2 separate regions of the Homo sapiens genome follow, and region 1 is linked to region 2. A link means that fine-mapping ties the variant in region 2 to the expression of a gene that starts in the linked region. Tissue or cell type: cerebellar hemisphere. Region 2 holds a variant in brackets; the other region holds the start of a gene. All regions are shown on one strand. Distances are between the middles of the regions.

What was found. PIP is the estimated chance that this variant, and not a neighbour inherited with it, causes the effect.
Region 1: it holds the start of ATP5MJ, and the variant in region 2 is fine-mapped to the expression of ATP5MJ in cerebellar hemisphere (GTEx, PIP 0.96).

The regions. Positions count from the first base shown.
Region 1 is chr14:103,918,397-103,926,494 of GRCh38, forward strand. ATP5MJ (ATP synthase membrane subunit j) reads right to left here and starts at 3,133. Exons shown (of 4, transcript NM_004894.3): 1 at 3,074-3,133. RefSeq lists an enhancer at 2,788-3,463 and silencers at 3,098-3,270, 3,157-3,326.
Region 2 is chr14:104,506,890-104,514,990 of GRCh38, forward strand. No RefSeq gene overlaps it. Among named protein-coding and RNA genes, the nearest start is that of C14orf180, 69 kb to the right of the region's middle. The variant G/A (reference allele first, on the strand shown) is at 4,897.

The DNA of each region.
Region 1 (8,098 bases), 590 kb before region 2:
TGTCACCCAGGCTGGAGTGCAGTGGCGGATCTCGGCTCATTGCAAGCTCCGCCTCCCGGGTTCACACCATTCTCCTGCCTCAGCCTCCCGAGTAGCTGGGACTACAGGTGCCCGCCACCACGCCTGGCTAATTTTTTGTATTTTTAGTAGAGACTTGGTTTCACTGTGTTAGTCAGGATGGTCTCGATCTCCTGACCTTGTGTTCTGCCCGCCTCGGCCTCCCAAAGTGCAGGGATTACAGGCGTGGGCCACCAGGCTCAACCCAGAGGTTTCTTTTTCTGTGAAACAGGGATACCTCCACCTGCCCCCAGAGGGCTGTCAATGCAATTCAAAGAGGAAACCAAGGCCGGGAGCGGTAGCTCACGCCTGTAATTCCAGCACTTTGGGGGTCCAAGGCAGGGAGATCAAGAGGTCAGGAGATCAAGACCATCCTGGCTAACACGGTGAAACCCCGTCTCTACTAAAAATACAAAAAATTAGCCGGGCGTGGTGGCGGGCGCCTGTAGTCCCAGCTACTCGGAAGGCCGAGGCAGGAGAATGGCGTGAACCCGGGAGGCGGAGCTTGCAGTGAGCCAAGATTGCACCACTGCACTCCAGCCTGGGTGACAGAGCGAGACTCCATCTCAAAAACAAAAACAAAGGAGAAACCTAAAGGACCCAGCCTAGTGCCTAGTGCCTGGTACGGAATAAAAATCCAGAGAATGGACTGGGCACGGTGGCTTACGCCTATAATCCCAGCATCTCGGGAGGCCAAGGTGGGCGGATCACTTAAGGTCAGTAGTTTGAGACCAGCCTGGCTAACATGGCGAAACCATCTCTACTAAAAATACAAAAACTAGCTGGGCATGGTGGTGGGCGCCTGTAATCCCAGCTACTCGGGAGGCTGAGGCAGGAGAATCGCTTGAACCCGGGAGGCGGAGCTTGCAGTGAGCCAAGATCGTGCCACTGCACTCCAGCCTGGGCAACAAGACACTCCCCCTTTATCTTAAAAAAAAAAAAAAAAAAAGAATTCAGTGACTGATCACAGCAGTAACAGAATTGATACAAATATCCAGTTCATGGCTATAATTAATACTAAGCCACTGGGACTCTAACAAGAAGGAAGGCTTAAAAAGACGCCCTCATTTAGGCCAGGTAGGGGCTTTGGACAGAACAAGGTAAGATGAGGGTCTATAAGGAAAAGGGCAAAGTAAACTGGGAGGGTACAATGACTACGGTAAGAAGGGACTAAAGAAACTGAGTCATGCTGACATTGTGCTCCGGGCCCAGGCACCCTGGTATGGTCTCCTTACAAAATTACCCTTAGTCCCCAGTGCAACAGGGGCCTGCTATTCAGTAGCTTGCAAATACCTTTCCCTTCCTTTCCCCTTGACTTCAGTTGCCATATTTGCCTGGACAAGTGACATGTTCCCAATACATAATAAAACGAGGGCCCCCCCTTTTTTTTTTTAGACAGAGTTTCAGTTGGTCATCAGGCTGGAGTGCAATGGTGCGATCGCGGCTCACTGCAACCTCCGCCTCCCGGGTGCAAGCGATTCTCCTGCCTCAGCCTCCCGAGTAGCTGGGACTACAAGAGGCCGCCACCACACCCAGCTAATTTTTGTATTTTTAGTAGAAACGGGGTTTCACCATGTTGGCCAGGATGGTCTCGGTCTCTTAACCTCGTGATCCGCCCGCCTCAGCCTCCCAAAGGGCTGGGATTACAGGCGTGAACCACCGCGTCCGGCCCCTACTTTTTTTTTTTTTTTGAGACAGTCTCGCTTTGTCACCCAGGCTGGAATGCAGTGACGCGATCTCGGCTCACTGCAACCTCCGCCTCCAGGGTTCAAGCGATTGTCCTGCCTCAGCCTCCTGAGTAGCTGGGAAGCTGGGACTACAGGCGCGTGCCACCACACTGGGCTAATTTTTTGTATTTTTGGTAAAGACGGGGTTTCACCGTGTTAGTCAGGATGGTCTCGATCTCTTGACCTCGTGATCCGCCCGCCTCGGCCTCCCAAAGTGCTGGGATTACAGGCGTGAGCCACCGCGCCCAGCTACATATTCCCAACACATAATAAAACGACAGCCCCTACTTTTTTTTTTTTTTTTTTTTTTAAGACGGAGTTTCACTCGGTCATCAGGCTGGAATGCAATGGCGCGATCTCGGCTCACTGCAACCTCCGCCTACCGAGTGCAAGCGATTCTCCTGCCTCAGCCTCCCGAGTAGCTGGGACTACAGGTGCCTGCCACCACACCCAGCTAATTTTTGTATTTTTAGTAGAGACGGCGTTTCACCATGTTGGTAAGGATGGTCTCGATCTCTTGACCTCGTGATCCGCCCGCCTCAGCCTCCCAAAGGGCTGGGATTACAGGCGTGAACCACCGCGCCCGGCCGGCCCCTTTCTTGAGTCCATTCTGCCCAGGCACATTTCCTAGCTGTGTGTGTCAGTTTTACAGCACCAGACCTTTTAAAAATCCATCTTATTCATAGGCCAAACGTGTGTCTACTGTATCCACTTAAGTCTGCAAAGTTTTGGCACATTACATTAAGGGCGAACTATTACCTGACACTGGAAATGGGAAATGTCTGACCCGCGAGTTCCATACAATTTCATTCAGCACCGTATGATCTCTTTTCAGCTTCCCTGTTGCCTCACCCAAGTTGTCATGTACAGCATAACGTGGAGGGCAGTGTGGCGCAAGGAAACTTGAGTTATAAAGGAGAGAAGGGACTGGATGTGGAGTCAGAGTTCTTGGCTTGGACTCTGGCTTCTCTAACTCTGCGTAGCCTCTGGGTTAGGCAGCTGAACCTCTCAAGGCCAAGGTACGCTCCCTGTCAAAACCGTGGGAGAATTCAGGTGCACTGAGCGCGTTAAGGCCAAGGAGGGAAACGCGGCGCAGGCCTAGGCGATGCTTCCCTCTGGCAACCGACCCTGGCCTACCTCCCTTCAGAGAAGGGAAAGCCGGGCAGAAAAGCAGGCGCGTGCCGGCGGAGGGGTGGAACCCCAAGATCAGCTGGGGCCAAGGCGGCTTCTCGCCCTCCCGCCCCCGCCGTCTCGCACCTCGGGAGCCAGGTCCAGGTCCCCGTACTCACCTTGGCGCAGGACAGACGGCTCAGAACGCACCACAAATCTGCAGCCAACTCGGAAAGGTCACCGAGCGCGCAGGCGCGCGCAGGGGATGCCGGGAAGGCGGAAGCAGCAGAGACGCCGCAAGGCCAGAGTGCCTCCCCAGCGGCGCCTCCGCACCACAGCGCCCCCGGCGGCCGCCTGGTGTCGCAGGCAAGAAGGGGCGGGGAGAGGGTGCGTTAGGGGTGTGCCCGCGTGTGTCACTGTGGGCTGGCTAATCCTCCACATCTTCCCACGACTGATGGGTTTCCTGGGACGCGGGACCTTCAACGCTGAAACTAGGAAAGTTCTAGACATACCGGGAGGGTTGGTTAACCTAAGAAAAGGGACCCTCTTTACTGTGACGTTAAAGACTAAGTCAAGTCTCCCATTTCAGTGGTGTGTCTTGTCCCTTTCTATTGTTAATTATTTAGCTCTGCATGTATAAAATATATATATTTGGAGACGGAGTCTCACTCTGTCGCCCACGCTGCAGTGCAGTGGCGCGATCTCGGCTCACTGCAACCTCCGCCTCCCGGGTTCAAGCGGTTCTCGTGCCTCAGCTTCCTGAATAGCTGGGATTACAGGCGCTGGTCACCAAGCCCAGCTAGTTTTTGTATTTTTAGCAAAGACGGGGTTTCACCATGTTGGCCAGGCTGGTCTTGAACTCCTGACCTCAGGTGATCCACCTGCCTCAGCCTCCCAAAGTGCTGGGATTACAGGCTTGAGCCACCGCGCCCGGCCTGCTCTGCATATTTTTATGTCTGTATTCTGTGCATATTCTTCTCAGCAGATAATATAAAACTTCCACAGGGGCTCCAGACACTGGGCTTAATAGTCTTAAAAATATATATATATATATATATTTTTTTTTTCAGAAATATTTTCCAGTAGAGAACTAGAAATCATAAAAGAAAAAAATTTAGCGAGCGGATCACCTGAGGTCAGGAGTTCAAGACCAGCCTGGCCGACATGGCGAAACCCCATCTCTACTAAAAATACAAAAATTAGCCGGGCTTGGTGGTGGGCGCCTGTAATCCCAACTGCTCAGGAAGCTGGGGCAGGAGAATCACTTGAACCCGGAGGGCAGGGGTTGCAGTGAGCCGAGATCTTTGCACTCCAGCCTGGGCGACAAGAGTGAAACGCCATCTCAAAAAAAAAAAAAAAAAAAAAAAAGCCAAATAAAAATTGGATGGAGGCTGGGCGCAGTGGCTCAGCACTTTGGGAGGCCTGTAATCTGTAATCTTAGCACTTTGGGAGGCCAAAGCAGGCAAACTGCTTGAGTTCAGGAGTTTGAGACCAGCCTGGCTAACATGGTGAAACCCCTTCTCTACTAAAAATACAAAAATTAGCTGGGTGTGGTGGTGGTGCGCACCTGTAATTCCAGGTACTTGGGAGGCTGAGGCAGGAGAATCGCTTGAACCCTGGAGGTGGAGGCTGCAGTGAGCTGAGATGGCGCCACTGTATTCCAGCTTGGGCGACAGAGCGAGACTCTGTCTCAAACAAACAAAACAAAAAATTGGATGGATTTGGCAGATTAGACAGTTAAAGAATAAACTGCAAGATCGAAGAAGCCATTCAGAAAATAAGAGGGATACAGCAGGAAAGATACCAATCATATGGGTAATTGGTATCTTAGAAGGAAATTAAAGAGGTGAGGCAGAAATATCTGAAGAGCTAATGGCTGAGAATTTTCCAAAAGTGATGAGAAAAAAATCATGCCAAAGATTCAAAAAGCCTTACAGAGGCCAGGCGCGGTGGCTTACGCCTGTAATCCCAGCACTTTAGGAGGCCAAGGCGGGCGGATCACCACACCATCCTGGCTAACACGGTGAAACCCCGTCTCTACCAAAAATACAAAAAAATTAGCTGGGTGTGGTGGTGGGTGCCTGTAGTCCCAGCTACTCCGGAGGCTGAGTGAGAGAATGGCGTGAGCCCGGGAGGCGGAGCTTGCAGTGAGCAGAGATGGCGCCACTGCACTCCAGCCAGGGAAACAGAGCAAGACTCCGTCTCAAAAACAAAAACAAAAAACAAAAAACAAACAAAAAGCCTTACAGAAACCAAGCAGGCAGATAAATAAAAATAAATCAATACCTTGAAATCTCACAATAAAGCCATAGAAAAGATAAAGATAAAATCTCAAAGAAAGTAACCACCAATCAAGAATTCTATACACAGGGAATTCTATACACAGGGAAATTGGCATTCAGAAAAGAAGGTAAAATAAAGACAGTTAAGGACAAACTAAGAGGAAATCGTGCTAGGCATGGTGGCTCATGCTTGTAATCCCAGCACTTTGGGAGGACTGCTTGAGCCCAGAATTTTGAGACCAGCCTGGCCAATGTATTAAGATCCCATCTTTAAAGGAAAAAAAAAAAGAGGAAATTATTAGGTTTTGAAGGGAAGGCAAGGGTTAAAGACAGACAAGACAGACACACACACACAGAGGGAGGGGGGGAGGGGAGAGGGGAGAGAGATGGTGGCTTCAACAGCAACACAGGTTTATTGCCAGCAAAAACCCGTGGAGCGGATAACCAGTTTAGTGCCCGAGCTCACTGCCGCTTCCAGGCTGGGGTAATTATAGGTCTGGGCTGGATGGGTCTGGGCAGTATGGCTTGCTGCCTGGCAGGATGTGATAAGGATGTTCCCGCAGTCAGGCAGTTGGGCAGGATGTTTCTTATGGTCAGAGCCCCCATGGAATGTTTCACTCCGACCAGGGTCTGTGAAATGGTGGGGGGTTTATAAAATGGTGCAGCTAGGACTGAAATAATCACAAGCAGATCCACAGTAAAATAAATGTTCATTATTCAGGCACAAGGAAAACGAGCTCAGATGTGTCAAGATAAAATAATAAAAGGCTCAAGATCCAGTTAAAATCATTTTTTTTCTTTTTTGAGATGGAGTCTTGCTGTGTCGCCCAGGCTGGAGTGCAGTGGTGCGATCTTTGAAAATGTAAAAGTGTTATTCCTCTCACACACACACACACACACACACACACACACAATGTTTTTTGGAAAACATAGTGACGTTTTAGAAAAATACACTGTTTAACATCAAACGGGTTTATCATTTTAAAATAAATAAGTAAAAACATTTCTCAGTTGTAATCCCTGATAGACATAACCCACATAAACAAAATCTCTTTAGGGTCCTCAGCAACTTTTAAGAGTGTAAAGGGGTTCTGAGACAGAACCAGGTTTGAGAACCACTGTCCTATAGTAAAAATGTTTTAGAGTTTTAGATTTATAATGACTTATAACACTGCTGAGGACGAGAACAAGCATTTAGGAAAAACTTAAGGAAGAACATCATGGAGAGCTGCTTCAAGACAGAGCTTCTGAACTTCCAACTAGACTTGAGATCAATAGACTTTGCTATGTTGCCCAGGCTGGTCTTGAACTGCTGGCCTCAAGTGATCCTCCCACCTTGACCTCTCAAAGTGTCAGAATTACAGGCGTGAGCCACTGTGCTCAGACCAAGAGAGTTTTAATGTCTTTAGTTTCAAATCCAAAACACCCTAAGAAACGCACATCTTAAAAAAAAAAAACAACCAAATGTTTCTTTTTTTTTTTTTTTTTTTTTTGAGATAGAGTCTTGCTCTGTCGCCCAGGCTGGAGCACAGTGGCGTGATCTTGGCTCACTGCAAGCTCTGCCTCCCGGGTTCACGCCATTCTCCTGCCTCAGCCTCCCAAGTAGCTGGGACTACAGGCGCCCGCCACCACGCCAGGCTAATTTTTTGTATTTTTAGTAGAGATGGTTTTTCACCGAGTTAGCCAGGATGGTGTCGATCTCCTGACCTCGTGATCCGCCCGCCTTAGCCCCCCAAAGTGCTGGGATTACCGGTGTGAGCCACTGCGCCCGGCCAAAAAAACCTAAATGTTTAAGGAAAGGGCCACTCCAGCAGATTTATTCAAAGTGCAGAATGTTGCATCTTGTGGTAGGAAGGCTGGAGAAGACAGCAAGCTACTTCGAGCACAGCTTCCTCTGCTTTGAGGAGAGTGCTGCTGAATGGCACCAACACCATTTGTAACTGCTCTCAGCTGTTAGTTTCCCCTTTTTGGTGGACGCTCAAATGCTCAGTGAATGCAAATATGCAAAACCTTCCCAAAATACCATGGCTCACTAGGGGTTCAGTGGCCTTCCCATGTGTTCTGGCCTAGATGTGACAAGTCCATGAAGATCTATCTGATGTCAAGCTGTTTCTTGTTTCTTTTTTCTTTTTTGAGACAGAGTCTTGCTCTGCCGCCCAGGCTGGAGTGCAGTGGTGCGATCTTGGCTCACTGCAACCTGCACCTCCTGGGTTCGAGCGATTCTCCTGCCTCAGCCTCCCGAGTAGCTGGGATTACAGGTGCGCGCCACTACACCCAGCTAATTTTTGTATTTTTAGTAGAGATGGGGTTTCATCATGTTGGTCAGGCTGGTCTTGAACTCCTGACCTCACGATCTGCCCACCTCAGCCTCCCAAAGTGCTGGGATTACAGTCGTGAGCCACCGCGCCCAGCCCAAGCTGTTTCTTTTAACTCTGAACTTTGGACAGCAATGCAAGGTGAACTTGACCAAGTGAGTTGGGAGCACCGAGAACTACTGAATCAAATGAAAGGTGCTCAAAGCCATTCAGTCTGTGATGATTCAGAATGTTAACTAGTGTTTGGTCAGGAAACACTATGGCAACTTTCCAAATTGGCAAATTTCCAAAGAAGCATCAAGAGAGTATCTTTGGATTGCAATTAAAAAAAAAATCAAAACTCAGAAGGATTAGCTAGTAGCCCAAAAGATCAAAGAATATAGAAAATGCCCCCCAGAAAATGTTTTTGAAAAGCATCTTCCACTTAAAATCGTATTCATTGTGACATCAACAAAGGATGACAGCACACGGTAACAGCAACATCCTAGAAAAACAGGCCAGGCGCGGTGGCTCACGCCTATGATCCCAGCATTTTGGGAGGCCGAGGCGGGCGGATCATGAGGTCAGGAGATTGAGACCTTCCTAGCCAACATGGTGAAACCCCGTC
Region 2 (8,101 bases):
CAAGCAGAGGGGGAGATTCTCCCTCAGGAGAGAGCGGAGGGGGAGATTGCCCCCAGGTTGCCATGGGGCTGGGATAGAAGATTCTGTGACCAGGAAATGGCCCAGCCTGCTGCTCCACCTGGCTGCAGCCACCCCTTTCTCCAAGACCAGACTTATGGGTCTGTCTCCCTGCTGCCTCCCTCTGCCGTTCTGCAGCTCTGGGGAGCTCTGTAACTGGGGGGCCCAATTCTGCCATTCTGCAGCTCTGCAACTGGGGGGCCTGGGTCGGTGGGGAGGTGGAAGTTGCCCCTGCAGAGAGTGTGTTCTCTTTTCGGGGAGACCTGGGCCTCCTGGTGCTGGAGGGGCTCCCAGCTGTGAGTAGGCAGGCCCCATGTAGCAAGGAGACAGCTCGCCATGTGGACTCCCTTGGGTTTGGTGATTGGTCACTGCCCACTGGCGTGCACTCAGTGCGTTCCTGGGCCCACCCAGGCTTCTTGATCTCTTGTGATGTTTGTAATCTGGCATTTGGGAGAGAGTGAGGTAAAGGCAATTTTGCAACTGCAATAAAACCAGCAAAGTGATCCTCTGATGGTTCTTAATGAGATCCGTCTATCTCCCCTGACTGAGCCGGCAGACTGCAACCCCATGTGTGAGGTCAAAATGAATGTCACATGGTCCCCCACAGAACCAGAGAAGCCATCACCATGGTGCCTGGCCTAATCTGCTCCAGCATCCGACAGGAGTGATCAGAAGATACTCACAGGAAATTGTTTTTCCTGCCTCGTAACCATAACAACAGATGAGAGCTGGTCTTGCTCAACTTTCCGAGTGAGCATCTTTGTCAACATGTAGCCAAACCCAGGACACAAAAGCAGAGACCAGGGCTGGCAAAAGGGCACTTTGGAGATATCAGGGTTTGGGGCTCCTGTGAGGTCTGGATTCTCCCCTCTCCTGCCCCACCCGACAGGGATGGCTTAGAACGTTCCTGAGTGTGGACTAGAAGGTGGGTGGAAGGACAATGGGCCCCCTGGAAGTGTGCATACCTGGCATCACAGTGAGCTGTGGCTGCTGCCTGGGCAGAAGCTGAGAGGCTGCCTTGCTGCCCAGAGTCCCCACAGGCCTGCAGGTGGGCACCAGTCCTTGCTTCCCAGATTACAGTCAAATGCTCTGCCCATATCATTCCCTAACTCTGACAGCACCAGGTCCAGATCTATCCCCTAAACTGCAACAGTATTGCTGAGAGAAATTAAAGAAGAGCTGAATGAATGGAGAAGTATACCAAGTTCATGGATGGGCAGACTCTCTATGGCTAGGATGTTGTTCAGCCACCCCAAAATGATCAGTAGACCGAATGTGATCTTCATAATAATTCCAATGAGCTTTTTGACGGAAATTGATTGATTGATTCTAAAATGCATTTGCAAGTGCAAAGACCTGGAAAAGAAACATGATCCTGGATAAAGAGCACCGTTGGACTAATACGATCTGATTTCAGGATGCTGCAAAGCCCAGTAATCAGGGCAGTGAGATACTGGCGAAGAAATAGACACTTAGATAATGGAAGAAAATGTAGAGACAAGAACTAGACCCATAAATACATTTCCCATCGATTTTTAGCAAAGGCTGCAAGGAAATTCAATAAAGAAAGAAAGTCTCTTTGACAAATGATGTTGGAGCAACTGGATACATTTATGGGGGAAATAAACCCCAACCCCTTCCTCACACCATACATGAAAATTAATTTAAGATAAACCACAGATCTAAATCTAAAATATGGACCAGGAAATACCTAGAACACACAGGAGAAAATCTGCAACATTGAGGTAAACAAAGACTCTTTAGAGAGGACACAAAAGGCTCTGGCCAATAAAGAAAAAACAACAAGCAGAAATTAATCAACATTTAAAATTTCAGGTCATCAAGACATTGTCAAAAAACAAAAAGGTATTTCATAAAATTAGGGAAAAAAATATATGTGTGTGTATATATATGTGTATATATACACACACATATATTTTCTCTAACTCTATTAATATATATGTATATATATATGCACACACATATACACATATATATACACACTCACACACACATACATCTTATATCCAGAATATATTGAGAGTTCTTACAAATCAACAATAAAAAGACAATCCACTTATCCAAAATATATAAAGAGTTCTTACAAATCAATAATAAAAAATCCAATTAAAAGATGCTTCATAAAAGAAGACACATAAATGCTGGATAAGCACATGAAAAGATGTGTAACATCATTAATCATCAGGAAATAGATACGAAAATCTCCAGGAAGTAGTTTTTTGCCCATCGGGTTGACAATACTAAATGTCAGTGTGGATATGCAGAAGCCGGAACTCGCCTATACTGCAGGTGAGGGTACAAAACGGTGCTGCCACTTAGAAAACTGCTTGGCAATCTCTTACATAATTAAACCTCCACCTGTCCTATGGCCCTCCTAGCTATTTATCCAAAGGAAATAGAAACATTTGTACCCCAAAAATACTTGCACAAGAATGTTTATAGCAACTGTATTTATAATAGTCAAAAACTGGAAACTACCCAAAGGTACACTGGCAGGAAAAAGCATAAATAGATTTTATATTTATAAAATGGAATACCCTTCAAAGATAAAATGGATAAACTACACAGATAAAGCTCAAAACAACTTGGTTGGGTGTTGGTTATGTGTGTGTATTTGTCAAAACTCATCAGGTTGTACCCTTAAGATCTGCACATTTCACTTTATGTAAAATTTATTTCATAAAAAGCAATTTCCCCAAAACAATATGATAATAGCACAAAAGGGCTGCCCTCTCCCCTCAGCCACGGCCAAGTGTGATGTTGCACTCAGACCCCACCCGAGCGTCCTGGCTTTGAGTCTCCTTCAGGATGCCCAGGTGTACACTTTGCTCGGAGCTCCGGAGCAGCAGACAGGGTTGCAGGGGTGGGGGGCTGCTGCCCTCCAGTGGTGCATGGCCCTAGCAGGTCCCCCCTCACCACACTACAAGCTCCCCACTGGAACCCTGGAGCCCGCATGCCTCCCAGAGGGCTCGTGCAGGGACCCCCAGGCAGCAGATACGGGCACCCCACGAGTGTGGCCACAGGAGGCTCCGTGAAGGGCAGCAGCCTGCAGCCATCACTCTGCCAGTCTCCCCGAGACACCCCAGTGCGCCCTGCAGTAGAGCTGGCTGGCCGGGCTGGGATCTGCAGACAGGTGGCAGCTCCACCTGGAAGGATAGAAAATGCAGTTGGGATTGCCACTTCTAGGTCTTGCCTGACTTCTGCCCTTTCCCAAACACAGGGCCTTGTGGTGCCTTCAGCTGGTCCCTCCTCCTGGAGTCCCCTCCCACCCATCCCAGCATCACCTGCAGCACTCTCCCGCCAAGGTCAGGCTCAGGCAGGGCCTCCCACCCCCATCCAGGAGGCTTGGCCAGGCCCATCCTCTAGGGAGCTGGGGACCTGGCCTTCCAAGAGCCACCAAGACATGTCTCAGAGGTAGATGGGGGCTGGGCAGTGAGCCGGAGCCTGCCCCCTCCCCTCCTGCCCCAGGGCCAGGGGCAGCAGCATGAAGCCTCCTGGTCTCCCTTCCATTCCCTGGCCAGGATGGAGACGCCCTCAGGGCTGGTGCAGGCCTCCAGCCCCCATGCCTAGTGGCCTGGGAGACAGCCAGCCCCACCAGATGAGGATGTGAGCCACACAGGCAATTTTCTCTAGAAATAAATGGAGAGAAATTGCTCTAACAGGCAAACGGCCTCTGTTTCAAAGCTAATTTCCACATAATAGAACCAAACTACTTCCCTTTCCTCTCCTCTGTCTCTTCTGCATAATTTGACAAATTGCAAAGCTATTTGATTCGGGGGCTCAAACACAAGCACTGACTCCAATAGTCAGGGACAGATGGGGAGAGGGGAGAAGGCAAAGCTCCCCAGAAAGCGCCCGCTGACTCCAGGGCTCTGAGAGGACATTTCTGGGACTGGCAGGTCAGAGTGCAGGGGTGGGGCAGTGGCCAGGGCTGGGCACCTCCGCATTCTGCCACCATCTCCCCAGGCGAGCAGAGGCCCGTCTGGGAAGGGCTGCCGTGGTAGCTGATGCACAATATGTCCCGCGGGGCTTGCCAGCGCGCTCCTGGCTCTGATCTGGTGCCTGGCAGGGCCAGCCCTGCTCCCAGCCAAGACCAAGGCCTGTGCTTGTGCTGCCGGCTTGGCCACGTGCTGAGACCGAGCCAGACCCAGCCAGGAGAAGCAGCTGGTACCTGAGCACCCCAGCCAGGCCACGGTGCCCGTCACCAGCGCCGCACAGCCCGCCCCATCTTCAGCTCCAGCCGCCGAGCTTGACAGCTCTGGCCCTGGAATCCCCACAGGCCCTGTGTGTGTCTCTCCTGCATCTCCTTCCCTGTCCATGTCCTCCCGGGAACTCAGAACCCCCCTCGCCACCCGGGGACCTGCACATCCCTACCACACACGCAGCCCACAGCCGGGCACGTGGTACGGTGCATCCTGTGTGCAGGGGACGCATGAAGAAATGCACGCAGCTGGGGCTGAGGACACGGAGGCCTCCAGGCAGGGGTCCGGGCCAGCCTCCCACCCACACCCCAGGCAGGTGGGCAAGTCACGGAGCACAGGGGACAGAGAGCAGTGGCATTTCCTAAAAGGACTTTCTATTATTTAACCTATTAAAAGATGTCTTTAGGCTGGGCATGGTGGTTCACTCCTGTAATCCCAGCACTTTGGGAGGCTGAGACAGGTGGATCACCTGAGGTCAGGAGTTCGAGACCAGCCTAGCCAACATGGCGAAACAGTGTCTCTACTAAAAATACAAAAATTAGCTGGGCATGGTGATGCGCGCCTGTAATCCCAGGTACTCAGGAGGCTGAGGCAGGAGAATCGTTTGAACCCGGGA[G/A]GCAGAGGTTGCAGTAAGCTGAGATCATACCACTGCACTCTAGCCTGGGCGACAGAGCAAGACTCCATCTCAAAAAAAAAAAAAAAAAAGAAAAAGAAAAAAGTATTTAAATGAGGATGTTATTTTTAACAATATTATTTTACAGCTATACAAATACTACACGAAAGCAGGCTTGATATTAAAAAGTGAGAGCCTCCTTCACCTGCACCCCAGTCCCCCATACTGTTCCTTCCCCGAGATTCTCCCCGCAGTGCACCTGTGAGCACCTTCCAGAGCTGTCCAGGTACCTGTAGGCAGGTCTGAGTATGCAGACATGTGGCTCGGGGCAGTCGCAGGAGGAATCCCACTCGCCTGTGATCCCCTGCCCTGCGTTTGTGCTTCTCATGTACTTCCACATAGAGAAACAAGGGTCACACATGGACCCTCAGCAAGACCATGGACAACAAGTGCAAGACCCAGGACAACCCAGCCCAGCAGATCCTGCCCGCCCACCAGCTGCCATGCAGTGCTCAGAGGCTGGAAGTTGAGGGTCACTCGTGCACCACCCCTACCTGCAAAGAGCACCCATCCAGGGGCACAGGGCACAGGAAGCTCCGGCCGAGAGGCGTGCAGATGGGAGATGCCCTGGGGAGTGGTGGGGAAACTCCTGCCACAGGGGGCCTTCAGGGGCCCTCGGAACCACAGAATCCTTTTGGAAGCCAAGGACATCAAGAGAGAAGGATCAAAAGAAACCGAAGCACAGGCTTGCGATGAGCCTGGGTGACATGGTGAGACCCTGTCTCTACAAAAAATACAAACATTAGTCAGACATGGTGGCACACGCCTGTAGTTCCAGCTACTTGGGTAGCTGAAGCTGGAGGATCACCTGAGCGCAGGAGGTCGAGGCTGCAGTGAGCTGTGATTGCACCACTGCACTCCAGCCTGGGCGACAGAGCAGGACCCTGTCTCAAAAAAGAAAAAGCACAGAAGCTGCAACAAGCCAGGCATGTCGGGTGTCCCCAAAGAATACCCCGCCAAGGGAATGGTGAGGTGAGGGAGGCAGCCACAGGCTGCTGAGGCTAAGCCTGACAGTGGGGCCTTAGATGAGAGGCTGGGGTGGTCGGGGCTCCCCCCGTGGTCAGCGCAGAGCCAGGCAGCGATGGGGAAGGAGAGCCGAGACAGGGAGCCTGGTAGGGTGGCTTCGGCATCGCCAGCCCCGCGACGACAAGGAGCCATGGGAGGGGACAATGCAGAGCCGTCCTGTGGGGGACGCAGACGTTGTGGAGGCTGGCACATGCTCGGAGCACACGCTGGTTGAAATAGCAGCCGAGAGACATAATTAAGAAGGTGAATCTGCTGCCAAAACATGCACCGTGCTTCAAAGTCAACAACGTGTGGTTTGGGGGACAGCCTGTTTCTGGGATAAGTTGGCCCCTGCAGGGCAGCTCACAGGGAGTGAGCATGGTGGGGACGCCTTCAGTCACTCTCTGGCATGGGCACCCCACACCCCGCCAGGGCAGGGAGGGAGGGGCAGCCGAGGGAAGCATGCGCCCAGCGCCACATCCTCCAAACCCTGGCTGCAGACACACGGGACAGGCTGAGCAGGAGCTATCGGGCTGGGCTACACCACGCACACCCAAGCACAAGCACTCCTCGGGCTCAAGAAAGGAGTGGAGGGTCGGAACGTTCTAGAAGGCCTCCCAAGGGAGAGGGGCTTGTGCAGATGGGGCACTCCAGGCCAGGAGCCCAGCCTATACAAAGGTGCGGAGGTGTCCTGTGCTGGGGAGTGGGACCAGGCCAGGCCGGGTGGCTGGGCCCGGGGATACAGAAGATCTGGGTCAGTCGGGGATCAAGGGGGCCAATGTTCAGGAGAAGGTGTTGATGGTGCAGCCCAGCTGCCCCTAGCTAAGCTGTTCCCTCAGGAGTTCACCAGAAGCCCATCGCGTCAGCAGCAGCCCCCTCGGGTTTGTTCAGCAGCATCCATGCAACCACATCAGCTCAGAGCGGGGATTTCAGACCCAAAGGGCCACCACCAGGGGGGATTTGTCCTGGGATCAGGGACCACCGCTCCTCAGCCTGGACCTTTCACATCGAGTGCCCAGAGAAGCAGGGGCTGGTGGGCACCTGAGGGTTCCCTGAGAGTCCTGCCCTCCAGTGGCTTAGAGATCAACCCCTGGCCCAAAGGTCCTGCTTGACAGGTGCCCCAGATTCTGTGAGTTACTTAAGATCAAGTAACAAAAAGATCACCCTCATGGCAGATGAGAGGTTAATTCAGTCACATCGTTACTGGTGACAGTCCCACAAATGATTTATTGATTTTTTTTTAAATAAAAATATGTCACATCCTCTGGTATGGGTATAGACCAATTCTGTGCTTGGGCCAACTGGATAAGAAGTTACTAGTTTGTACCAGATGCCAACTTGCTATTCCATGCCAAGCAGAAACAGCACTACCCATGATACAGCACTGCTACCTGGCACTTCCTCACGCACCACACACACACGCCCCTCCAGGAGTCCGCACAGCCTGCAGTGAGCACCTCCTCCGTGCCAGGCGCCCTGGCAGGGTTGCTGTGTACTGTGGGGGTTGCCAAGACCAATCAGACTTGGCACTGCCCTTGAGGAGCTCAGGCTGCAGAGGCGAGAATGGGAGGATAACTCAGCCCCATGTGCCGTCCTTGAATGGGTCTAATGGGGCCCACGGTCATTGCATGTGGCTGACGTGGCGTGACTAGGAGGCTGAGGAGGGTGTCCCCATGGAAGTGACGTTCCAACATGGACTGGAAGGATAAGTACAGCCCAGTCATGGGAAACAGACAGAGATGCTCAGCCTGGGCAGTGAGAAGGCAGGTGGGAAACTGAGGCAGGACAGAGTGTGGTGAGGTGGAAGATGGCAAGCAGGGCGTGGAGCCAAAAAGGATGAGGGTGGGGTGGTGCAGAGGAGTCCCCGGGGCCCCAGGGCTGGGCCACAAAGAGGCCTGTAGATCTTGCTAAGCCCCTGGAAGGTTCTGAGCAGAAGAGACTTCACCAAATGAATGCTTTAAGAATCTCCTTCTGGCCCGATGTCCATCGCGGATGAATGGATGAGCAAATCGTGGTCTAGCCACACAACAGAATATGTATTATTCAGCCATAAAATGAAATAAAATACTGATTCCTGCTACATGGCTGGAGCTTGAAAACTTTCTGCTGCAAGAAGCTGGACACAAAAGTTCACGTGTTGTAT